Homo sapiens: one gene and its partners. The protein of the gene in region 3 interacts with the protein of the main gene of each other region in a pairwise test. Each region holds a gene or a part of one and is shown on either strand. Other genes may lie near its edges. The genes, in order: RPS6KA6, ACVR1B, RXRA, NRBF2, CASP2, TMPRSS3 and KIF1A.

Evidence for each region.
Region 1: the proteins of RXRA (region 3) and RPS6KA6 interact in a two-hybrid assay, tested with the Homo sapiens proteins (one large-scale study listed by BioGRID and IntAct).
Region 2: the proteins of RXRA (region 3) and ACVR1B interact in a two-hybrid assay, tested with the Homo sapiens proteins (one large-scale study listed by BioGRID and IntAct).
Region 4: the proteins of RXRA (region 3) and NRBF2 interact in a two-hybrid assay, tested with the Homo sapiens proteins (one study listed by BioGRID).
Region 5: the proteins of RXRA (region 3) and CASP2 interact in a two-hybrid assay, tested with the Homo sapiens proteins (one large-scale study listed by BioGRID and IntAct).
Region 6: the proteins of RXRA (region 3) and TMPRSS3 interact in a two-hybrid assay, tested with the Homo sapiens proteins (one large-scale study listed by BioGRID and IntAct).
Region 7: the proteins of RXRA (region 3) and KIF1A interact in a two-hybrid assay, tested with the Homo sapiens proteins (one study listed by BioGRID).

Annotation. Positions count from the first base shown.
Region 1 is NC_000023.11:84,118,700-84,122,199, forward strand, and holds part of RPS6KA6 (ribosomal protein S6 kinase alpha-6), read right to left. Parts: intron 1,329-3,500; coding exon 1,186-1,328; intron 1-1,185. UniProt on the Homo sapiens protein: Constitutively active serine/threonine-protein kinase that exhibits growth-factor-independent kinase activity and that may participate in p53/TP53-dependent cell growth arrest signaling and play an inhibitory role during embryogenesis.
Region 2 is NC_000012.12:51,979,199-51,982,698, reverse strand, and holds part of ACVR1B (activin receptor type-1B isoform a precursor), read right to left. Parts: intron 1,731-3,500; coding exon 1,500-1,730; intron 14-1,499; coding exon of another isoform or gene 1-13. UniProt on the Homo sapiens protein: Transmembrane serine/threonine kinase activin type-1 receptor forming an activin receptor complex with activin receptor type-2 (ACVR2A or ACVR2B).
Region 3 is NC_000009.12:134,430,955-134,434,454, reverse strand, and holds part of RXRA (retinoic acid receptor RXR-alpha), read right to left. Parts: intron 2,551-3,500; coding exon 2,459-2,550; intron 354-2,458; coding exon 248-353; intron 1-247. UniProt on the Homo sapiens protein: Receptor for retinoic acid that acts as a transcription factor.
Region 4 is NC_000010.11:63,143,328-63,146,827, forward strand, and holds part of NRBF2 (nuclear receptor-binding factor 2), read left to right. Parts: intron 1-2,881; coding exon 2,882-2,966; intron 2,967-3,500. UniProt on the Homo sapiens protein: May modulate transcriptional activation by target nuclear receptors. Can act as transcriptional activator (in vitro). Involved in starvation-induced autophagy probably by its association with PI3K complex I (PI3KC3-C1).
Region 5 is NC_000007.14:143,294,851-143,298,350, reverse strand, and holds part of CASP2 (caspase-2 isoform 1 preproprotein), read right to left. Parts: intron 1-3,500. UniProt on the Homo sapiens protein: Is a regulator of the cascade of caspases responsible for apoptosis execution. Might function by either activating some proteins required for cell death or inactivating proteins necessary for cell survival.
Region 6 is NC_000021.9:42,386,053-42,389,552, forward strand, and holds part of TMPRSS3 (transmembrane protease serine 3), read right to left. Parts: intron 3,098-3,500; exon of another isoform or gene 2,994-3,097; coding exon 2,877-2,993; intron 2,475-2,876; coding exon 2,351-2,474; intron 1-2,350. UniProt on the Homo sapiens protein: Probable serine protease that plays a role in hearing. Acts as a permissive factor for cochlear hair cell survival and activation at the onset of hearing and is required for saccular hair cell survival. Activates ENaC (in vitro).
Region 7 is NC_000002.12:240,813,720-240,817,219, forward strand, and holds part of KIF1A (kinesin-like protein KIF1A), read right to left. Parts: intron 1-3,500.

The DNA of each region.
Region 1 (3,500 bases), on a different chromosome or scaffold from region 3:
TCTAATTTGCTACCAAGGTTAACAACTGCTTACTTTGAAATCTCTATAATCTTACAATTGTCTTTAAAGATCTCTTTTGTCTTCCTATTTCTAGTTTCTTCCATTACAATCCACTTACAAGGCTAATCCTCCTAAAATACAATTTTCTCTAATTTCCAGCCTGTTTAAGAATCTAAAAGTTTCCTCCTACCCAGAGAATCATGTATAAATGCTTATAGGTTTATAGCTTCACTTCCTCCACCTTTGCCCTCTTTCTCCACTTCTCTAGTCAAACTGGTTCTCCAAGTCTTTGCTAATATGATCACAATAACTCTCCTTCTTGACACACAACTATTTAAATTTTATCCATCCTTCAGGGCTTAATTTAAGTTCCAACTCTTTCAGTTTGCCTACATCAGCTTACATTAAATCTTCCCTGAACTCCTAAGGTACTTCTTGAGAGTTTATTTAGCTACTCCAATTGAAAAAGACCAAATATTTTACTTAGAATCAGTTCCTACCCCACAGGCCTCCTAATATGTCAGGCTTATAAGAGACACTTAACATGCTGATGTGTCATTTGATGTGCTACTCAGTGATAAATGGACAAAATGGATCAGACCTCCAAAGCAAATTATATCTAATTCAACAGCTATTTATCTATCATCCTACTGACTACTGCAAATTCTATGCTTAATCTCATACCAAATTAGTCAGTCTGTATTAAGCATCTACTGAAATGCTCACTATGCTTGATACTATGGGAGATGAAAAGTAGTATAAGACATGATTCCTCTGCTCAACAGGTTTATAACCTTTCTAGGGAATACATGGAACAATCTGACAATAAGACACTATATGGTAAGGTGCTAAGTTCTGTAACATTCAATTAAAATACCATGTAACTGATAAACTCATCATTCTGAAATATAGAATCTGACAGACCTTTTCATAAGTATCAAATATGAATAGTTTATAATAACAATGCTGTCATTTACCTTTTTACTAGCAACTTTAAAATAAATCAGAACACCAAAATCTTAATTTTTATTGTGTAACAGCTAGCCAATCACAAGGTTTTTGGTGTTAATTATAAATTATCAGAACCCCTTTCTGACCTGCTAAATCCCAAAATTTGAATTAAAATAAAATTATAAGTAATATCAATCACAGGTTGGCATAATTAAAACAAATAATGCTACTTACCATAAGAACACCATATGACCACCAATCAGCACTCTGGGAATGGCCTCTCCTATTTACTACTTCAGGAGCCATATACTCTACTGTACCACAAAATGAGTAAGCCTTCTTTTCTTGATCTACTGACTCCTTGCTGAGTCCAAAATCTATAATAACAGTATTACCAAAAAATGTGTCTGAAAAACTTCAGAAAATAGAAAACGTCAAAAGAAACAAAATAATGTATTAAACATTACAATTATTTATGGATGGCCTACAGTTACTCTTAAGAAAGTTCCTGTGAGATCAATAAGAGAAAGCAGCCTGTATTTCATAACAATACTCTTTAAGGTCATTTAAAGATCCTTCCATGAAATCTCATCCTCAAAATACATGCTTTCAGGTCTACACTAGAATATAGTGCAAAAAATGTGAGGGAACAACAATTAAATCAAAGCTGCCGTATTGATCTAAGTTTTAAAATAGACTAAGACAAAACAGAAATAGTAACTTATACTTTTTAAAATATTAAAAAAGCAAATTTTGCTTTGGCTTTGGTGAGCTTCCATTTTTGTTCAAAGCCTTCAAGGAGCTAAAGATGTCAATAATAAAAATCAATCTTATTTCTTGGTATTACTAATGAACAACTGGAAGACGAAATTTAAAAAGTACCATTTATAATACCACCAAAAATATCAAACATGAAATCTACAGGTATAAATATACATCTACAGCTATAAAATATATATGCAAGAATTATATGCTGAAAACTGGAAACACTGATGAAAGAAATCAAAGTAGACCTAAATAAATGGGAAGTTATACCATGTTCATGAATTGGACGATTTAATGTTGTTAAGGTATCAATTCTCCCCAAACTGATATACCAATTCAATGAAACTTCAATAAAATCCCAGCAAAATTTCTTTTGTAGAAATCAATAAGCTGATTCTACAATTTGTATAAAAAAGTCAAGAAAATAAAATAGTCCAAACAATTTTGAAAAGGAAGAAAACAGTTGGACTTACACTACACCTGACTTCAACACTTACTATAAAGCTACGGTAATCAAGATAGTGGGGTACCGGAAAAAGGTTGGACATATATATCAATGGAACAGAAGAGTGTACAATGATAGACTGACATATACAGTTAATTCTGCTATAATGCTTCTTTTGAAAATGCAAATTTGTTCTAATGCAATTGATATCTTAGCAAACAATCTAAGTATAACGTGAATTTCACACTGGCTTATCAGTGATTTTGTCTGCAGGAAGCGTTACATGAGCACAGAAAACTGAATCAGCTGAGCTTAGGAAAGTAGAAATACATAAAATGCACATATGCACACACCTCAAACATCTACCAGCTAATTCACTGTATTTGTTATGAGCCACTCCTGTCCACCTCTAGCGTTAAAATTTTCCTTCCAATTCCAGATAATCTAACTTCCACTACATCATTATAACTTACAAACTGTAACTTTTCTGACACCCACTTCCACAAGCAAACTTCGGGTCTTTTTCAAGGTAAGGAACTGTATTTATTGCAGTCTTTATGTATTTCTTAATCATTTAGAACATACAGAACAATGCTACCCTTTTTACTTTCTTTTCTTTTGTGTATCACTGATCAAACATTTTAAAGTTATGCCCCTTGCCTCCTTTTCCCCATAAGTTCTGTGGTTTATATACTATGGATTTATGCATACTGCAGTGATTTAGATCACATATGTCACACTGTAACAGAACTGGCTCTATATTGTCACTTAATTTCTTGCAAAGGTGCAAAAGCAATTCCATGGAGAAAAAGCAGTCTTTTCAACAAATGGTACCAGAACAAGTAGGATAGAGATATAGAAAAATTCATCCTCATACCATAAATAATTAACTCAAAATGGATCGTAAACCATGTAAAACCTAAAACTATAAAATTTACAAAAAAGAAAATAGAAATTCTTTGTGATCTTGGGTTAGACAAGGATTTCTTAGATACATCAAAAGTATAATCCATAAAAGAAAAATAATGACAAACTGGACATCATCAAAATAAACAAAACTGTTCTTCAGAAAATGGTATTAAGAAAATGAAAAAGAAGCTACAGGAGGAAACGATGGAGCAAGATGGCAAAATAGAAGCCTATACCATTTGTAGCTTCTGCAGGAACACCAAAGTTTAACAACTCTCTGCACACAGAAAAGCACCATCACAAGAATCAAAAATCGGGTGAGTAATCACAGTACTTAGTTTTAACTTCATATTGCTGAAAGAGGCACTGAAGAGGGTAGAAGAGACAGTCATGAATCACTGATGACACCCCTTCCCCATGCCCCAGCAGC
Region 2 (3,500 bases), on a different chromosome or scaffold from region 3:
AATGAGCAGTCTGCTGTTGTTTCAGGAATGAAAAACAAATAGCATCTTCTGTAGGCTTTGTAGACACTAACTTCTAAATTGCACCATGCCACAGGAGCAAGTCATGTCACAACTGCTAGAGAGACCCTTCCACAATGTGAACCAGCCACTCACAGCATCCTCTCTGTGCTCCGGGTGCCACTACCTGTCCACGTGTCTGTCCCCTTCTTCCTGGGAGCTCTGTGAGGGGAGGGACTGTGTCTTGCTCTTATGTGTGATGGTCCAAGCAGCCAGCAGAGGTCTGGCCCACAGCAGTCAATAAATGTTATAGAATTAATGAATGAAATTTTAATTACTACCCACTATCTTCAGAATGGAATACAATCCTCTCAAAAAGGCCCCTCATAATCTGGCCTCTGCCTCCCTCTCCACCCACAGCCATCCAAGTTACTTGCTGGGCCCCAAACCTCACCTTTGCACATGTCTGCAGTGCTCTTCCCTGCAAGGAAGATTTTTCTTCCTGACCAGTTCTTGCCACCTTTGTCTCAACTGGGCTCAGGTGCGAGTCAGCCCCAATTTGTGCTCAACAGAACAACTCGTGTTTACCTCCTCTAATCACCCTTACTCGTCATCCTTTGCTAGTCAATGAGGTCCTCAAACATAGGGAGGTGCCTGGCACATAAGAGATTCAAAAACTAAAGCAATAAAAGGGAGAGGAAGAAGGAAAGAATCCTCAGGGACAGGACTGACCAAGAGCAGAGTCCGAAGGCGACACTTCGTGGACTACAGGCTTTTCTGTCGTTATCCTCCTTGCCAGGGTTGAGGCCGCAATTCCTCATCCTAGGGATTTTTTTTTTCTTTTTTTTTTTTTGAGACGGAGTCTCGCTCTGTCGCCCAGGCTGGAGTGCAGTGGCGCGACCTCAGCTCACTGCAACCTCCAGCTCACTGCAACCTCCGCCTCCTGGGTTCAAGCAATTCTCCTGCCTCAGCCTCCTGAATAGCTGGGATTACAGGTAGGTGTCACCGTGGCCAGCTCATTTTTGTATTTTTAGTAGAGATGGGGTTTTGCCATGTTGGCCAGGCTGGTCACAAACTCCTGACCTCAAGTGATCTGCCTGCCTCGGCCTCCCAAAGTGCTGGCATTACATGCGTGAGCCACCGCGCCCAGCCCATCCTAGTGATTTTCAAAATAAGCTTACGGGACCCCCTGCAGGAACTACAATGGAGGTGGGTTTGGGGGAGTGGAGAAAGAGAAATTGAGCAGGTAGGGTGAGGGGGTGTATCTTGTTTATCTGAGTAAGAACTGCTTGTTTATTTGCTTGATAACCTGGATTTTTGTATAACCTTTTCATGGAATAAAAGGCTCCACACTTTAAGGAAAGCATGGAAACCTTGACCTTACTCAAGTTTTCTTTCTACGGGTTACAATGATGAAGGCAAACAGAGCTGTGCACCCCATAGCTATGCACTTTCTCTAGCATCCTCTATCTGGGAATGCTGTATCCAAGCCCAGCCCTTACCTTTATTGTCAGCAGCAATAAATCCAAGGATGTTTTCATGGCGCAGCATGACCGTCTGGTATATCTCTGCTTCCCTGAACCAAGACCGTTCTTCACGAGAAGAGAATATTTTCACAGCCACATCACCACCCCTCCAGCGGCCCCGCCATACTTCCCCAAACCGACCCTTGCCAATAATCTCTTGTAAAACGATGGTTCGGGCCACTGTGCGCTGGACAAAGAGGGGTAACCCTGTGAACCAAAGAATAGGAAGAAACCTGACATTGCAAATTTGACAAATTTTCCAACTCCCACACTAATTGGCACAACGGAAACACCCTTAACATGGTGTCTTCATCCTACGCTGTCCATTAACCATGGAGAGCTGCTGCTGCCCATACACATTTCTAGGTAATCTACCAGAGGGCTGAGCCAGGCGGAGAGATGGGGAAAGAGTGAACACAAACAGGAAACGTGTATGATTAGCTACTCCTTATCTAGGCAATTTCTCCTCTCAGTAAGCACGGATGATAGATTTGAATGTAAATGTTTGACCAGATTTACCAACTCTTCAGCCAGCCACCTGTGGGCCGATCCACCCACATCTGCTTTATTTTGGTGGAGGAAGGAAAGAGGGCAGAGAACATGAAAGTGTGGGCTCATGTGCTGGGGGCCACCTTCTGGCTGTTCTGCTTATTAGCCACTAGAGGGCAGTGCTGTGCGGCCCATGGGTTCCCATCTCCAAAGAGAGCAATGCTCTGCTCACAAGCGAACTCCAGATGTAGAATGGAGGACCATCTATGTTTAGTCTAAGATTAACTTTACTGTCTTTATAAAACTCAACATTGCTTCATTTGACTCATTCAATGTATCTCTATATATCCAATCACCCTTACCATCACAAGTGACTCTTAACTGTCTTACTCCCACCCCCAATCAAATAATTAATACATTATTAATCCCTAGGTCTGGTAGATGGGAACTACCATTTACTGCATGCTTACTATGTATTAGGCTCCATGCTAAGGGCTTTACATAAATTATCTCACTTCCCCAAACCACCTGGAAGGTAAGGCGCTGTTATCATCCCCATTTTATAAACAAGAAAACTAAGGCTCAAAGAGGAGGTTATGTAATATTCAAATTCATACAAGCAGTAAGTGGCAAAGCAGGGCTTAAAATCTAGGACTGTCTGACTCTATAATCTATGCTTTTAATGACAACAGTATAGAACCACCAAAATGTTTCTCAAATTAGCCCCCGCCTCTCCATCTCCGTCCGCCTGTCCTACTTTTGGACCTTCTCTAAAAGACTTCCAACAGGTCTTTTGCCTCCCATCTCAGCCTGCTCTTGCCCTGTGCACCCACACACACCCCGCCTCACCCCACCCTTCCCAACAGAAGGCTGGTAGTGAATGAATTCATCCTCCACACCACTGCCAGAATTCCTTCCAAAGGAAAAAATGAACATTCATTTCCCACATGGAAACTTTCAGTAGAAGCCCCTTACCTAGAAGATAAAGGTCAGCCCTCAAGATCCTGTACACCTGGGGCAGCCTGACGTCCCCCTGCTTCCCCAGCACAAGCACATCATGCTGGTCTCCTCATCATAAAAGTTCTTTAAACATACAGTGGACCTTCATGCCTTTGTCTTTTTACTCAAGGTATTTTCATTGGCCTGGAATGTTCTTTGCCCTCTCGCCTCTCTTAAAAATTCCAACTCATTCTTCAAGACTCCTTTTTTTTTTTTTTTTTGAGATGGTGTCTCGCTCTGTCACCCAGGCTGGAATGCAATGGTATGATTTCGGCTCACTGCAACCTCCACCTCCTAGGTTCATGTGATTCTCCTGCCTCAGCCTTCTGAGTAGCTGGGATTACAGGTGCCCGCCACCACACCCAGATAATTTTTGTATTTTTAGTAGAGATGGGGGTTTCATCATGTTGGTCAGGCTGGTCTCGAACTCCTGACCTGAGGTGATCTACCCGCCTCGGCCTCCCAAAGTGCTGGGATTACAGGTGTGAG
Region 3 (3,500 bases):
AAGCACCTACTATGCGCCAGGTGCAAGGTAATCCTTCCAGTGGGGATACGACGTGGGCCTGTGGGGTGTGCCCGCCACAGCCCACTGGCCTGGAGGACCTCCTGCTGCCTGCTCAGGACCTGCTGGCATGGGCTGGGCCTGGGGAGGGTGCCACCTTCTCATTCACATAAAATGGCCTTGCAGGGGGTGGGGGCTCTGGAGACAAGAGCCTGGGTCTGGGGTGTGTGTGGGACGGGGCGGGACCCACCTTCCCGGCTGCTCTGGGTACTTGTGCTTGCAGTAGGCCTCCAAGGACGCATAGACCTTCTCCCTCAGCGCCTCCACCTCGGCCGGGTTCGAGAGCCCCTTGGAGTCTGAAAGGAAGAAGCCACAGGTCAGAACCCTCAGCTGGGGCGTGTCTCGGGCACCTGCCCCCAGGACCCAGGCTTGTGTGGGGTCTCCCAGGCTGCCCCACCATGGGCAGAGCAGGTGGTGGAGGAATGCCGCTGGACATGCCTCCGCCCGCTCCCCCAGAGCCTGGTGGCAGGGGGACGACTGTGGAACCCACGGCCAGGCCAGGCTGCTCTGGGTCCAGGCTCAGCTCTGCCACTTGCCAGCCACGTGACCTTGGGTCAACTATTTGACCTCCAGAGACTCGGTTTCCCCATCGATAAAGTGTCAGGGATCTGCTGCCTTCCTTCCAGCCGCCTTGGGAACTGGGAGAGACAATGGATGCTGCTGCTGCCCTTGGGTCCCAGCCCCATAACATGGATGGGAGATAGCGCTGCTGCCCCCAGGAGTACCCAGACCCTGCGGAAACCCATCCTCGGTGTGCTTGCGGAGTCCTGAGCTCAGGACCCGGGCTCAAGAGCCTAGAGTGGACAGAGAGGCTAAGATTGCAGCCACCAAAACCTCCAAGGCCCAGGGACCCCCTGTGAATGCCACCTTGGCCCCCAAGGCCCAGGGACCCCCTGTGAATGCCACCTTGGCCTGTGTCCTGGGCTCCTTGGCAACGTACCTGGCTCCCCCAGCTGCCTCCGCTCCAGCCAGTCTCCTCGCCCTCCCTGCATGCCTGTGCCCTGGTCTCTTCGCTTTCCCTGCAAGCCTGTGCCTGGACCCTGCTTGTGCCAGACAATCTCACCCTCCCTGCAAGCCGGTGCCCAGGTCCTGCTGGTGCCCCAGCTCTAGCAACCAGACCACACAGGACCTGAATGGGGATTCCTCGGGCCGGGCCGGGCCGTGGCATGACTCAGCCTCCGAGCTGGCAGGATTACGGCCCGGATGCACAGCCTGGGTGATAAAATGACCCTGGAAACAAGCTCTCCCCACAAGAAGATGCCCATCTCCATCCCGGCCCGGTCCCTCAGAGCCAGGTCTGACAAAGGGCAAGGTCAGAAGGTCAGGGCCAGGAGCCGAGAGGGCTCCACTCCCTCCACCATAGCCCAAGTGAGCTCCCCACAGCAGCCCCAAACCTCTCCCTCCACACCCCAGCCACCTGCCCCTATCACGCAATGAGCTGAGTTTCCAAACACAGAAACCCATAGCTCCCTCCCGGCTGGAACCCCTCAGGACTTGGCTCCCTGTGGCCCCAAGAAAAAACCCAAACTTAGCAAGACTTTCAAGGCCCTGCCTGGGCTGCCTCCACCAGCCCACCCCACCTCCGTGCCTCTCACTCCCCTGGCCCCTAACTTGCAGCTCCCGGAGGAAGTGGCCCGCACCCTCGACCAACCGTGCTCCTGCCCTCACGTGCCGGGGGTGCCTGCTGGTGGGCGTGACCCTCTAAACCCCAAGCTCTAGGCAGGCAAGCCCTATCCAGCAGCTTGAAGGGGCCCTCCCATGCCAGCAGGGCACCGAGCAAACAGGCACGTGTCAGCACTTGTTGGGCGAAGGAGTAGCACCTAGGAGGCTTTTCAAGCCGAGAACCCAGAGGCTGGAGAAGGGCCGCACTGTCGGCCAGGAGGCCTGTGCCCAGCCCCAGCCCCACAGCCCCAAGCCCTGCTCTCCTCAACCACAGGGGCCCAGCCCCAGAAACACCCTGGACCCGAGGCTTGGGGATGAGGTTGGTCCCCTCTGGAACACCCGGCAGGCCTGACCCATCCCCAGCCTGCAGGGCTTGGGACTCCTGAACTTCAGCACCGGAAGTTCACAACCACAGCTGGCCACTTTCGGAGTCTGGATTCCGACGCACAGTGATGAACACTATGAACCGCGGAGCCCAGACGGCACCACCAAGCCCCTCATGACAACTGCCTTGCTGGGTCCCCCTGTGCCCAGGGACCATGCCCCCTTGGCTGGCCCTCAAGGTGAGCAGAAGGCAGCATGGCCACACTTTCACTGGGAGGGGGGCACACTGAGCTCAAGGAGGGTGGGAGTTGGCCCCACATGTAGCCAGAGGCAAGAAGTACAGCCAGGAGGAGGCCCAGGCACCTCTGCCCCACCAGAGAACGGGGCCAGAAGCCTCAAGGCAGGAAGGCCATACCAGGGTTAAAGAGGACGATGGCGCGCAGGCAGCCCAGCTCCGTCTTGTCCATCTGCATGTCCCGCATCTTGGACACAAGCTCCGTCAGCACCCTGCAGAGGAGGAGGGCAGACACCCCATCCCAGTTAGGTCGCAGCCCTCACCAGGGCCACACCCCAGATACCCAAGGCCTCTGGAGAGCCCGGCGTGGCCCGAGGGCCGCTGAGATGGGCCAAGCCAAGGCAAGGACTCCCAGACACCCCGAGAGGGAGTGGGCTGGAACCCAGGCCCAGGTGCCGCCCCTGCCAGGCCTGCCTGGCCCTGCCCGGAGGGTGGGCTCCTCTCCTCTCCCTCTAGGGTCTGCCTGCGGGGCTTTATTCTGGGAACCGAGGTGCTAAGGAGGGGCCTCGTGACAGCTAAACTGAGGTGAGCCGCAGCTGCACAGAGGGCACAGAGTCCACCCCTCCCGAACCCAGTGAGACACACCACTGTCCCTCCTCAGCTGTGGACCCAGCACCACCTGAGGCAAAGCCCCTTCCCATGCCACAGCCCCAGCCGCTCCCTTCAGTCCAGGAAGATACCTTTCCCCAGGGCCTGGTGTCCCTGGGTGGGGGCTGCCAGAGGGAGGCATGTCTACTTCTTGTCACCAGAGAAAAAAAATCCACCAGCCTCAACACGGGGAAAGCCCGCCAGCTCCCTCCATGGAGACGCTGGGGGCGTTCTTGGATTCAGACTCAGCTGCCCCAGCCCTGCAGCTGGATTCTGAATCACACCAGCCTCTGCAGTGTACTGGGCCCCCTAGCCTCAGCAGCCTGCCCACCAACCCCAAAGCTCAACTGCTGTGTCCAGGAAGTAAGGGTGGGCCACAGCGGGGGAAAGGAGGTGACCAGGTGGGGATGGTTGCCTAAGGAGCCTGGGCTCTCCCCTGTGGGCCAAGGGCGGCCCTGAGGGTCTGCAGAATGGGGAGTGCCCTGGTTGATTCCTGGAAGAAGATCTGAAGGAGGCTGGAGAACAGGGTGGGACAGAACAGGAGCTGGGAGGGACCCCCGATGTCTGCTCTGAG
Region 4 (3,500 bases), on a different chromosome or scaffold from region 3:
TGTAAACATGCCCAGAATATTTATAATCTCAGTTGCAAACGTGATTCTGTGAAGTACTTTTATGCAGCATCAAAGGGACATGTCTTTAAAAAGCATCCAAGACAAATCATTTTTCAGCTAACTGACAGAACAGATTTGTTTTTTTTTTGGGACCGAGTCTCACTGTGTTGCCCAGGCTGAAGTGTAATGGTGCGATCTCGGCTCACTGCAACCTCTGCCTCCCGGGTTGAAGCGGCGATTCTCTTGCTTCAGCCTCCCGAGTAGCTGGGATTACAGGCACCCACCATCCTGCTGGGCTAATTTTTGTAGAGACGGGGTTTCACCATGTTAGCCAGACTGGTCTCAAACTCCTGACCTCAGATGATCCACCCGCCTTGGCCTCCGCAAGTGTTGGGATCACAGGCATGAGCCACCATGCCCGATTTTTTTTTTTTTTTTTTTTTGAGACAAGATCTCACTCTGTTGCCCGGACTGGAGTGCAGTGGTGCGATCACAGGTCACTGCAGCCTCCATTACCCAGGCTCAAGTGATTGTCCTACCTCAGCCTCCTCAGTAGCTGGGACTACTACTACAGGTGCGAGCGCCACACCCGGCTAATTTTTGTATTTTTTGTAGAGATGGGTTTTCACCATATTGCCCAGGCTTGTCTCAAACTCTTGAGCTCGAGTGATCTGCCTGCTTTGGCCTCCTAAAGTGCTGGGATTATAGGCATGAGCCACAGCACCCAGCCACTTTTTACCTTTTTTAAGTGATGTAAAAAACACGTGAAGTTTACCTTCTTAATTATTTTTAAGTGTACAGTTTAGTAGTGTTAAGTATATTCGCATGGTTGTGCAACAAATGTCCAGAATTTTTTCATCTTGCAAAACTGAAACTATGCCGTTTGAATACCTACTCCCCATTTCCCCCTCCCCTGTTCAATGATGAGTTGTTCCACCATTCAACTTTCCTGTTTTTAAGAATTTGACTACTTTAGATACCCAATAAGTCGATTTGTATAGTATTTGTCCTTTTATGACTGGCTTATTTTATTCAGTCTAATGTCCTCACAGTTCATCCATGTTGTAGTATGTGTCAGAATTATCTTCCCTTTTTTTTTTTTTTTGAGACACAGTCTCGCTCTGTCACCCAGGCTGGAGTGGAGTGGCGCGATCTCGGCTCACTGCAAGCTCTGCCTTCCGGGTTCACGCTATTCTCCTGCCTCAGCCTCCTGAGTAGCTGGGACAACAGGTGCCCCCCACCACGCCTGGCTAATTTTTTTTGTATTTTTAGTAGAGACGGGGTTTCACCGTGTTAGCCAAGATGGTCTCGATCTCCTGACCTTGTGATTTGCCTGCCTCGGCCTCCAAAAGTGCTAGGATTACAGGCGTGAGCCACCGCGCCCGGCCAGAATTACCTTACTTTTAAAGACAGTACCTTTCCATTGTGTGTGTATACTGCATTTATCCATCTATCTGTTGATGGACATCTGGATTGCTTTCACCTTTTGGCTGTTGTGAATAATGCTGTTATGAATATGGGTGTACAATGCTTTTTGCTTTTTTGTGAAGCTGTGAAGCTTTGCTAAATCGTGTGTGTTTGTTACTGAGGAAAATCGTTACATGAGGTAGAAAACTTTAGCTGATTATCTCTGCCTTTCTCCTTGCTAGTTAAATGTATAATCTTATGTAAGTTACACGACCTCCCCATCAGTCTTTTGGGCCTCCTTATGTAAGAGAGGAAAACACATTAACAAAGTCGTAGTTAAAGCAGCTGAAATAATGTATATTAAAGCTTTTTTTTTTTTTTTTTTTTTTTGAGATGGAGTTTCACTGTTTTCACCCAGGCTGGAGAGCAATGGCATGATCTTGCCTCATTGCAACCTCTGCCTCCCAGGTTCAAGCAGTTCTCCTGCCTCAGCCTCCTGAGTAGCTGGGATTACAGGCGCCCGCAGAGACGGTGTTTCACCCTGTTAGCCAGGATGGTCTCGATCTCCTGACCTCATGATCTGCCCGCCTCGGCCTCCCAAAGTGTTGGGATTACAGGCGTGAGCCACTGCGCCCAGCTAATTTTTGTATTTCTAGTAGAGATGGGGTTTCACCATGTTGGCCAGGCTGGTCTTGAACTCCTGACCTCAGATGATCCGCCTGCCTCAGCCTCCCAAAGTGCTGGGATTACAGCCATGAGCCACTGTGCCTGGACTTAAAGCTCTTTTGAAATTATTAAAGTGTAAGGAGGCCAGTGACTGCTTATTTAATAAGTTTTCCTTCAATTACATTATTTGCTGTTAGAACTTCTGATTTTTTTGACTTTGTTCTTTTGATGAGATATCTTTAAAACAATCTTTGTAATATTAGATGTTGGTATCATGAATTCATCAACTGCAATGTCCAAATTTTTTATTTTAAAAACAAATAGTAACTTTAATGTTGAAAGAATGAGATGATAGAAGAGAAGCTTGGATTTTACTACATGATGAGTGATTTCCTGATTATAGTTTTTAGACTATACAGATTAGTGAAAGTATCTACAAAATAGCTCTTGTTTTGAAAGGAGCTTGTTAAAAATCAAGAAAATAGACATTTTGAATAACAATCTATGATTGTAACTCTTGGTTTATCTCCAAAGAGTGGAAGAATGTGAGTCACTGAAGGAGTTAAGTGCCTGGTGTTAACCTTGAGAGGGCTTATGGTAGAAGTGAAAGAAGTTGCCAGTTCCTTTCAGATGCTGCAGTTCTAGGCTCTACCCATTACATTTCCCCAGCTACAGATAGAGCTGTAATAGTGATTTGATATGTGGCAACAAAACAGTATTATTTATCTTCTTAAAAGGTAGTTGCTTTTTGAAAGAAATCATGTTTTATTTTATGATCCAGAGGAACTTAGGGATGTTTGTCTTCTAGGCTCATCAACAGAGCAGACGAGCAGACCGTTTATTAGCTGCAGGCAAATACGAAGAGGCTATTTCTTGTCACAAAAAGGCTGCAGGTGAGTATTCTTATTAAGTACTCAGTGTAAAACTGAAGAGCAGAAAGTCACAATAGTAATAATGTGTGTTGCTTTTCATATGCAAGACTGATACTGCTGACCCACCAGAATATCAGCTTTGATTATTTTTCAAGTAAGTGTGTTGGATTTCCCAGCTCCTGCTAATCCAATCTTCTTTCTAAATCATGAAGATGGCATAAATGTGGTAAACAGTTCCTGGATACAGCTCTCTGAGCCCAAAGATCCCTAAAAACAGGAGCTGATTGTAACAAGTCTGCCATTTTATCTTAGTTATTATAAAAAGGAGTTTGGGTTTCAAATAGTTGGCCATTTCAGGTTCTAAAAATAGTAATTCAATTCAATTCCAACCAATTCATTTTCACTGAGCTTCTGTTTTCTAACATGCTGATAATGCAAAACTTACTATAAGACTTTTGTTACCTAAAATGTGGGAGATTTTTCCTGTGGTCTTTTTTTTAGCTTCCCTTCTGAATATCTCATCTCTACATGCATGCCTGTAGTAACATGCTGATG
Region 5 (3,500 bases), on a different chromosome or scaffold from region 3:
AGATGGGCAGAAAGAAAACAAGTTCATTTTATTATAAACTTGAATAAAATGTAATGAAAATAAGTAAGTTATCTGGGTGGAAGAGTTAAAACACACATATATTTAATCACACACACTGCCAAAATAAAAAGCACACTTCTATAATATAACATATTGCAGTAGTTCTCAGAGTGGCCCCTAAAGCAGCAACAGCAGCATCACCCAGGAACTTGGAAGAAACGTGAAATCTTGGGCTCCAGCAAAATGTGTTTTAACAAGCCCTCCAGGACACTGTGATATGTTAAAGTTTGAGAGCTACTAATTGATCTGTTCGGAATACTTCTGTTTGTAGATAATTGAGATGCAATTACATAAAATATTTGAAAGTCTGCAATATAACTAGAAATAAAGAGACTGGTGTTGTTGAAAAGTATCTGTATTTTCTAAGTAGAAGCAAACCATAATAATAGAAATCTTAAGGTAATGACAGATAATCAAAAAATTCTTTCAAGAATATATAATTTCAAGAGAATACATAACTGTGAATGTTCCTCTGGAGCTGATGCTAATAGAATTTAACATTTAATAGTTAAAGAAGTTAATTTTGCTCAAAGAAGAAAACAAAGGCCGGGCGCGGTGGCTCACGCCTGTAATCCCAGCACTTCGGGAGGCCGAGGCGGGTGGATCACCTGAGGTCAGGAGTTTGAGACCAGCCTGACCAATGTGATGAAACCCTGTCTCTACTAAAAATACAAAAATTAGCCGGGCGTGGTGGCATGCGCCTGTAATCCCAGCTACTCAGGAGGCTGAGACAGGAGAATTGCTTGAACCTGGGAGGCAGAGGTTGCAATGAGCCCAGATCGCGCCATTGCACTCTAGCCTGGGCAACAAAAGTGAAACTCCATCTCAAAATAAAAAAAAAGAAAACAAAAATTATATACCTGGGCACCGAATCACGAGCATTTTGAATTTAGTGAGATTAGGTCAGTAAATAGAAAACAATGTCCAAAAAAAGAATACACGCACTTTGTAACCAAACTTAGTAAGACTAAACCATTCAATAAATGGGGATTAGACATTTGGAGGAATTTTTCTACAAGTAGCATAGCTTAAAATAGGATCTGCAGATTTGTTTTTGATAAAATTACAGTACTTCTATAAATAGCAGGGTTCTTAACTCCTAAGTGTATTTTTGGCTAGGGGTTGGGGGACATGTGAAGAGAGTAACTTGTGAACCCTCTGAAATTATATGCTAAATTATATGGGCAGCTGCATTTTCCAGGGATAACCCATAGCTTGTCCTTACATTTTCAAAGCAGTTTGTGACCCAAATGCAAGCTAAAAAAACAATACCACATGGTAAAAGGAAATTTCCACTTTGAAGAGTACGTTTCCTAACATAGGGTAAATCATAATTCTAGAACTAGTAACCTCATGAAGTAGATGCAATAAAAACTTAATAACAAAGAGAAAAGTGAAAACATCTGGGCAGTGAGAATACCCATGTTCACTGCAGCACTATCAGGGGAAGAGGAGTCTCTAAGACTAATTATACTATTTCCTGTTTTTAAATGGAATTCCTCTCTTAAGTAAGAAAGATTTGATAGGGAAAGAAAAAAGGATCTTTTTTTTTTTTTTGGTTCTGTTTCTTTGCTTGCCAAATAGCTATATGATAAACGAGTTGACTCTCTAGGGAGATCCCACCAGGAAGAGAGCATTCTGTGCAGATGCCCAGTGTACCAAATTATGACACCCATTGCAACTACCTGGTTTATAACACACACATTTCTTGTCCACATACTGTTCTCCCTGCCTAGGGTGGCTTCACCACTCCTCTCTGCTTCAGTAACTTCTATCCTTCAAGGCCAGCTTAAGTTCTGCCTCCTCCACTTATCCTTCTGATCATATCTACCTAGGCGCTTCTTCTTCTTAGCTATGACAGAAGATTTTTTCTCTAATCTTGTTTGGTCGTTAGGAATATAAGAGGACACACTTCCTTTTATGCTGATGTCAAAACTCCCTCATCTGATCTTTAAAATCTGTGGCAGCTCACATAGTCCCCCATTATAAGGTGCTTGAAGTTCAACTCTACTGCAATTCCAGTTACAGAGCAATTCAACCAAAGAATTAGAATCCAATAGGTCACTGAATATGCATCAGGCTTACCATAAATGGAAATGCTATTTATGAAGTGAGCTCATAAACTCACCAAATCTGACAGTCTCTGAGAAAACAGCAGTATATATAGTTGACTTAGTGACTCAGTATTTTATCTTTAACTATTAGACATGTAAGATCCTTTATCAGCTGCATACAACTTGAAAAACCATGACATAATAGATTTCTAGTAAAAGACATGGCTAGACCAAAACCTCTAAGAAAACACACACACTGCACATTTTGTTAAGTGACCTTCTGTAGGAATTATGGCTGGTACCCTGCCCTTTGCCCCTTTATGCCCAGCAGACTTCTCAGGAAAGCATATAAACTACCTGAATACTTGATGACTGAAGCAGCTGTTGCTGCCATGGCTTTGAAGCAAGGGTGGATTTAACTACATTGCATATGCTACAAGGGGGAAGCTGGCAAAAATAGCATGTAAAGGACAACACCCAGGTACCTGTGGATGAAACTGGCCTTGCCAAAAATATAGTAAATACATAATTACTCTCACAGAAGGAGGGCAGCTAAGAAAGAGAAATGAAGACTACAGACAATGCTGAATGGAAAACAAAGATCCTCTATCCCAACAGATCAAAGTGAATCTCCTAGCAATTTTAATTTCACCACTGACAACCTCAAAGCAAGTTGAAGAAAGTTCTACTATTCTGGAATCAAAATAAAGAGTGAATATGAATCTACAAATAGGCCATTATTGATTGCAAAATAGAAACCCTAAAGGTCACAAAGTCAGTTGTGCAGTACAGTAACTGAGGTTAATGACGAACAGCCCATAATGAAAATGTTTACAATTTCTAGAAATCTGGTCCACAAACAATCTACCCTATGACTTGTGATTACACAAATGTTAAGAATACTTTCCCAGCCAGGTGCCGTAGCTCATGCCTATAATCCCAGCACTTTGGGAGGCCGAGGGGGACGGATCACCTGAGGTCAGGAGTTTGAGACCAGCCTGGCCAACATGGCAAAACCCCGTCTCTACTAAAAATACAACAATAAGCCAGGTATGGTTGCATGCGCCTGCAGTTCCAGCTACTCAGGAAGCTGAGGCAGGAGAATCGCTTGAACCTGGTAGGCAGAGGTTGCAGTGAGCCGAGATCGTGCCATTGCACTCCAGCCTGGGTGACAGAGCTAAACTCTGTCTTTAAAAAAAAAAAAAAAAGTGAGACACCAACTGTGGACTATTATTACTTTATGAAACCACAACCTGAGATGTCAACACTAAAATGGCTGGCCGGCCCTAATTCTTTCTTACTAGAATGCAAGGTGAGAGGCAGAACAGAGTGAGTAAAAATGTAAGTAGAATAAACCAACTTTTAAGACATATCCCAGCAGGCACA
Region 6 (3,500 bases), on a different chromosome or scaffold from region 3:
GCGATTCCACGAACACCAGAGCCCAGCTCATTTTTACAGTGCCAGGACACAGGTCTTCTGGAGAACAGTGGTGAAAGTGATGCAACTTTTTAAAGAAGAATCACATGTTTGGAGAGTCACAAGATGGAAGATGGTGAATAAACAGCCATGTTCTCCTTCCCTTGTGAAATGAACAAAACACAGTACAGTAGGCTTGTTTTCATAGTGAACACACCAGCTTATCAACAGGATTTCTTCAGCTTACTGTAAATGCTATGGGGGTGTGTATGTAGAATACAAAGTTCAGTCAACTTTGAGTTTTGAGGAAAATGTAATCAAGGCGGCGGGCACGACCTTCGCAGCCCTTCCAGGGATTGCTCAATGCACGGATTCCGCTGGCACTGGCATGAAAGAGCCGATGGTTGCTGGGATGGCTTGGCCCCAGTGCAGGTGGCGGGGCTTGTGCCAGGCAAGGGGACCCCAGTGCTGCAACTGGAGCCCCATGAACTGTCCAAGTCTCAAAATGGTAACAATGACAGCCACAACCACACACTCGCCCAGTGTGCTCTTGCCCACCAAGCCCTTCCACACTCACAGCGTCAGCGGAACTTCAGTTCCCCTCCAAGTACGTGCTATTATCATCCCTCTTTTCTAAGAAAGGAAACTGAGGCATGAACTGTGTGTGGAACTTGCCTGAGTCTACACTGGGATTTGAACCCAAGCAATCTAGCTTGACCGTCCTTTGGTTATTTATTTATTTATTTATTTATTTATTTTTGAATCACAGATCTCTGACATAGGATGTAGTAGAGCAGAGAAGATTAAAGAAGGATTTTAAGGAGAATTTAAGAAAATAGAACAAAATGCAGAAATAAATCTTAGAAACTGAAGCAATGGATAGAGAACAAAAGAACAAGCCTATAGAGAAGAAAGTAGGCAATATTGGGGTGAGAGATGGGGGACATCGCATTCCCTGGATTTCCTTGTAGAGGGAGCATATTAAGGATGAGAAGGAATATTTTACCAAACGGGCTGGGGTGGAAGAGAGACGGGAAGGCTACCCCCACCATGAGTGGCCTCTACCTGATGCCTGGGACAGCTGGGGCTCCTGACTTGGGTCTGCTGGGTGGGGAAGGAGAGGGATTGAGCTGAGTTTTTCTGCATAACAGAGCAGAGAGGCCTTGGGGTTTGCTCAGACAGAGCGGTGGTCCTCCAGGACAGAGGAGGAGGGCAGAGAGAAGAGAAAAGGAGGCCCCCCAACACCCCCCACCCAATGAGTCAGAGGAAGAGGCTCAGCGGGGAAGAGAAATGCCCAATGGGGAAGCTCTCAGCTGTGTGCAGTGTGTGTGTGTGTGTGTGTGTGTGTACCTCTTCCTCCTTGTCTCTAAGGAGTAATACATCATTCCTGAAGACGTTAGTGTGGATGATTTTTGCTCTTCTCATTGAACTTGAATTGCAGCTCATTTCTGAATCTCAGTTGGTGTGGAGGGAGAGGGAGGCAGACCTCAGGGCTGGAGGCTGGAGGGCATTTTGGCTTCCACCAGCTTTGGGGAAAGACAGCCGAGAATATGATTCATGGAATTTGAAAACTGAGACTCTGTGGAGGACTCAGGGCAGTGTGGCTTTAACGACCCCATCTACTTGAGTGCAAAGCAGAATGCAGCCTGCCTGCTTTGAGTGCTGAGACTTGAGAGCAAAGGGGAGTAAGGAGGCTGCTAGGGGAACCCGTGGAAGTACAGCGGCCGCAGGAAGTCAGAAGGAAGGGGCCAGGGGAGAGAAGGAGGCCCATGCCTAGGCCAAAACTGTGTCACTCCAATGCAAAAAATCATGTAGGCAACACAAACACTAAAAAGTGAATAGTCAACTGTTATAGTTCTTTGTTCTACATGTTGCTAAACAAGTGTTTTGGATGATTGTGTCTTCACTAAATTTCTGACTTTCAACAATTGGTTCTGTGGGGTTCTTGGGGAAGCGTGCATGGACATTGATGTGACCGCCAGGACCAAGCAGGAAAGTGTCCAGGAAGCTACTCTAGGAGCTGCAAGCTGAGGAGCTGGAGGGTTTTTTGGTTTTGTTTTTGTTTTCTACTTTGAAACTTTTTATTGCATGTTCGTATCTCCGATCCTGGCCTGGCCCTGGGAACCCCCAAACATGCCACTTCCCATGTGCCTTGAGCAAGTCACTTAGCCTGTCTGGCCTTGGTTTGCTTGCCTGTGAAGTGAGGATGATATCGGGCATCCTAAGGTGGATGTGAGGATGTAATCTGAGAGCGTTAAAGCACCCAATAGTGCCCAACTAAATGGTAGTTGTCTTTCTTTATTGTTATCCTCTCTGTGTTTTGCCCATGGGTTGGAAATGCTCTTTAACTTACCTTGGGAAACCCAGTTGGGCACAGGCAACATTTGCGTAGTGACCCTTCCAGTCATCGGAGCACATGGTCTTCCACGAAGCAGCTGTGAACACCTGGAGCACGGCATTCTGACCACCCACCCGGACTGGCCGATGTGCAGAAAGAAAGGCTTATTAGTGGCCAGTGGAACCCTGAGACCATAGGCAGGGGTTTCTCCACAGCCAGCTCAAACCCCTCCTCTGCCAAATCTGACCCACTTCTTGTCCACGGCAGCCTCCCCATCACAGAGCAGTGACTCTGGATCCCTGAGACTTCTCGCTGGTCTCATCTTATTGCTTATGTGGTCTCCCCAAGAGAGCCAGAGCTCCATGGAAGGCCCTCCCTGACCCCCCAGCCCAACATGTCTTTGGGCAAACGCCAGTTCAATCCCAGCTGAAGACATGACCTAAAAATGGCAATGACTTGGACCCATTTTACAGATGGGAAGGGTCAGGGTTGGCTTCTGCTGCTTCCTTCTGTTTCCCCAGGGGAAGAGCCATGACCTTACCACAGCGGTACTCGTCCTCCCCGTCTTTGCAATCCGAGACTCCGTCACATCGAGCTATCAGCTCGATACACTTAAAGGATGAGCGACATCTGTACTTCCCTGAGCAGTCGAAGTGGACTGGGAAAAGGGAGGAAGGCAGGAATTAACCAACAGCTCTTTCAGAGTGCAACACTAACAACTGTCCCCCTGCCACACAGTGCGGAGCTGGCCCGTGAATAATGAAACCTGTATTGAAATTGCGTCCCTGTCAGCAGCCTGTTTCCTGCAGCCCAGTTTCTGTTTTGAATTCCAAGGGGTGGGGCTGCTGTGCCCCACTTTATCTCGCTATGTGGCCTGGCCCAGGAACCACAGTGCAAGGTGAATTTAGACTCTGGAGGTCTCAAGGTCAAGAGAGAAACTGCATGGCGGGGGGCCGACCTGCTGAGCCAGCCGAGCAAGGAGTCCTGACTGAGAACTGCTCGGCCTTCCTGGTTTCTCTTACCGAAGGCAGAAAGTGAACGAAGTGTGGACCACACAGTGGGGCAGGTGGCGAATTGAACTGACCTGTGATTCAGGTATTTGAAAGAAAAATTGTTCCCTATTAGAGACCCTCCATCCAAATGACCCACTTTCTCAAAAGCCACA
Region 7 (3,500 bases), on a different chromosome or scaffold from region 3:
AGCAGCCCTGCCGCTCCCGCCAATGGCCTCCCTAACACATGATGTGCCAACTAATGCCTTCCTCGGGCGTGAGAACAGAGTGTGAAAGGGAAGGACCAGAGCTGCCAGCAGAAAACAGGCCCTGCGGGAAGGACAGGCAAAGCATGGAACAGACGCGAAACAACCGAGCACAACCTCTGTCCACGCACCCGGGAGATTCAAGAAGATGCTCATTTTCAAAACAAGGGCAGAATGCTATGAGACAGAACATTTAGAAACGTGAAGATTTTAGAGATGAAAAATGTAAGAGATGAAGTACAAGATTCCAAAAACCCTAGAAAAGGCAGTCAAAGGACTTTAGAATATAAACAAGGAGACAGAATATACAAGAGAAAAGCAACCAAACAGACCAACCCATGAATTCAGGGTAAAAGAAAAAATGAAAAGGAGGAAATTACGAACAAATAGAAGTAGAGACCCTGACTTCAGTGTGAAGGGCCCACCGAGTGCCAATAAATGCGAACCCCATCCTTACACCCGTCGACATGAAGTTAGAACACCAAGGAAAAGACAGGATCCTAAAAGCTTCCAGGGAGAAAAGACGAGTTGCCAACAAAGCCTGCTCATAAGTGACCTGATGCAGAAAGCCATGGTGACCCTATCCTTAGAGTTCCCAGGAAAGCTACTTAGGAACAGAAGTACCCCAGACACTACCACCCAGAGCAAGGACACAGCAAAAACACTCTCACACACCAAAGACTCATGCACCCTTTCAAGGAAGTCACACAAGGATGTGCTCCAGCAAAACAAGACAGGAAACCAAGAAACAAGCAGCTCTAGGGTCCAAGAAACAGAAACTCCAATCCAGGGGACATGGCAAGCAGCTGCCAGAGGCCACTTCTGGAGGTGCGATAAAAGGGAAAAAACTCATTCAAGAAAATAAAAAGGCTGGGCGCGGTGGCTCATACCTAAAATCCCAGCACTTTGTGGGGCCGAGGCAGGAGGATTGCTTAAGCCCAGGAATTCAAGACTTGCCTGGGCAACATGGCAAAACCCCGTCTACAAAAAATTAGCCAGGTGTGGTGATACATGCCCATAGTCCCAGCTATTCAGGAGGCTGAGATAGGAGGATCACTTGAACCCAGGAGGTTGAGGCTGTGGTGAGCTGTGACTGCACCACTGCACTCCAACCTGGGTGACAGAGTGAGACCCTGTCTCTAAAATGAAATAAAATAAAGATAACCAAGAGCTGGAGAAAATAAAACACCAACCAAGAACATCTTGCCTAAGTACAGAGCTGACGCAAAGGGTGTGGGGCCGTAAGCGTGCTCCTCTGGTCTGCGCCTAGCCCACTGCAGCCACTACTTGTCCTAGAGCTGCAGCCCTCCCAGGCCCCAAGGACCTGCACCCATGGTGGGGCCCTGGCCCCAGAAGCAGGAGAGTGGGGACCAGATGACACCAAGCAACTGAGTACAGTCCCACCCCAGCCCCACAGCAGCTCCTCAGGAGCCACACCGACCCATGACCTTGAGCATTGACTGCCCAGCCCTGTCCTGCACCATCCTGGCTTGAGCTGATGACAGATGGAGAAGGAAACTGAGGCCCACCCTCAGGTGGGCCTTTCTGGCAGGGCTGAGGTGGGGGCAGGAACCCCTTGAGGGCATTCCTGGCACTACCAGCCTCAGGGAAGGGGCCCTGCAGGAGCAGTCCGGGGCCATGCCTGTCCCTAGAGCTGCATTTCAGGAGCCCCACGGGAGGCCCAGAGGGAAGGGGGTGCCTGTCATTCCTAAGCCAGGCTCAGGAATCCATAGGTTCTGAACAAGAGACACTGAGACCCAAAGACACCCCAACCCCTGAGAGGGTGGCCAAAGCTCAACCTGGACTCTACCAGAAAATGCGGTACCTGGGCTAGAACAACCGGCTCAGCCATGGAAGAGCACTGACTGAGTCTTCACTCTGTGTGAGGCACCGTGCTGGCCCCCGTGGGGGTGGGAGAAGTGGGGGGTAATGGGGGTGGAGGAGAAAGTGGAGGGATGAGCAGAAAGCACTAAAGGAGCTACCATCCTCGGAGTCCCAGGTCCTCACTTTACAAGCCACATGGGCTTCTCAGGAGCCTCAGTCTCCATACCTGGAAAATGGGAACACCACCACCTGGCTCAGTGGGGTCCGAGCCAAGCGGTGCTGTTCTCATTGTTCAGGTGTGGAGTGGCATGGGATAAAGGGAAGCACATGAGGTGCACAGTGCAGGCTATGACCAGTGTTCTCTGTCTTCTTCCCCACCCCTGGAAACCTATGGTTGTGGAGGGGGTGCCAATCTGAGGGGTAGGGGTGACAGCAGGCATCATGGCAGAGGCAGCATTTGAGGGGGACCTAAAACCTAATGTGGAGGTTGAGTAGAAAGTATTGAGAAGAAACCCAGGCAAGAACAAAGACAGGGACAAGGGATGCAGAGTGTGTGTGTGTGTGTGTGTCTATCTGCATGCATGCATGTGTGTATGCATGCGTGCATAAGCATGTGTGTATGTGTGTTTGTATGTGAATGTATGTGTGGGTATGTGAGTGTGCATGAGCATGCATGTGTGTGTATGAGTGTCTGTGTGTGTGAATGTATGCATGGGTGGGTGTGCGTGCATGTGTGTGTCAGTGTGTGTGCAATGTGTGTGTATGTGTATATGCATGTGGATCTGTGTGTGTTCGAGTGGATGCATGTGACTATGAGTGTGTGTGGCCGGGTGACTGCTCTGGACCCCTCCAGGGCACTGTGGGGAGGGGTGAGGAATAAGCACGAGGATGCCTGGAGAGCCAGGCACTGGCCTGCCCTCCCTATACCCCAAGGCGTCCTGAAATCTGGCAGGGATGGCAAGCAGGAGGGACCCCCAAAGGTCATCTGAATCCCCAGGCTCTGTGGCAGCCAGGGCTGGGCCTGCCCAGACCACAAGGCCTGGGATTAGGAGATTAAATCCAGGGTGAGGAGGCTTTAGAGAGGCAGCAGCCCCTCCTACTCATTCCGGCAACCCCAGCCTCTGAGTCCCACATCCAAGTCCCATATCCACACATCCGGATCAATCTCTACAATGCACTAGGCCTGCAGGAGGCCAAAGCTGGCAGGATGGGCTGGCAAGGAGCAGGAGAGGTCAGGAGGCTCAGTCTCCACCTGCTGCTGACCTTGACTGTGCCCTCTGCCCCACAGCACCCCCAACTGCAGCACGTGGGCCAAGCCCAGCCAGCTGTTCCCTGGGTTCTTGAGGCCCTGGGGGTGGGGGCACTGGGGTGGCGAGAGGCCAGCCAGGCTGAGGGTGGGGATCCCAGTGGGGCTCAGGAGCTAAAGAGCAAGCTGGCTTCGTCAGGTGGGGCCACTGTGCCCCTGCCTCTGCCCAGGTGCCATGCCAAAGGACTGGGATGCAAAGCTCTGGGATCCCAAACCCTCCTGTAGCAGGGATGGGCCTATGGCCGGAGGCCACCACCTAAGGGGCAGAAGCCGGCAAGGACGCAGGCCCAACGCTGCCTGGCTGTGTCCCTGG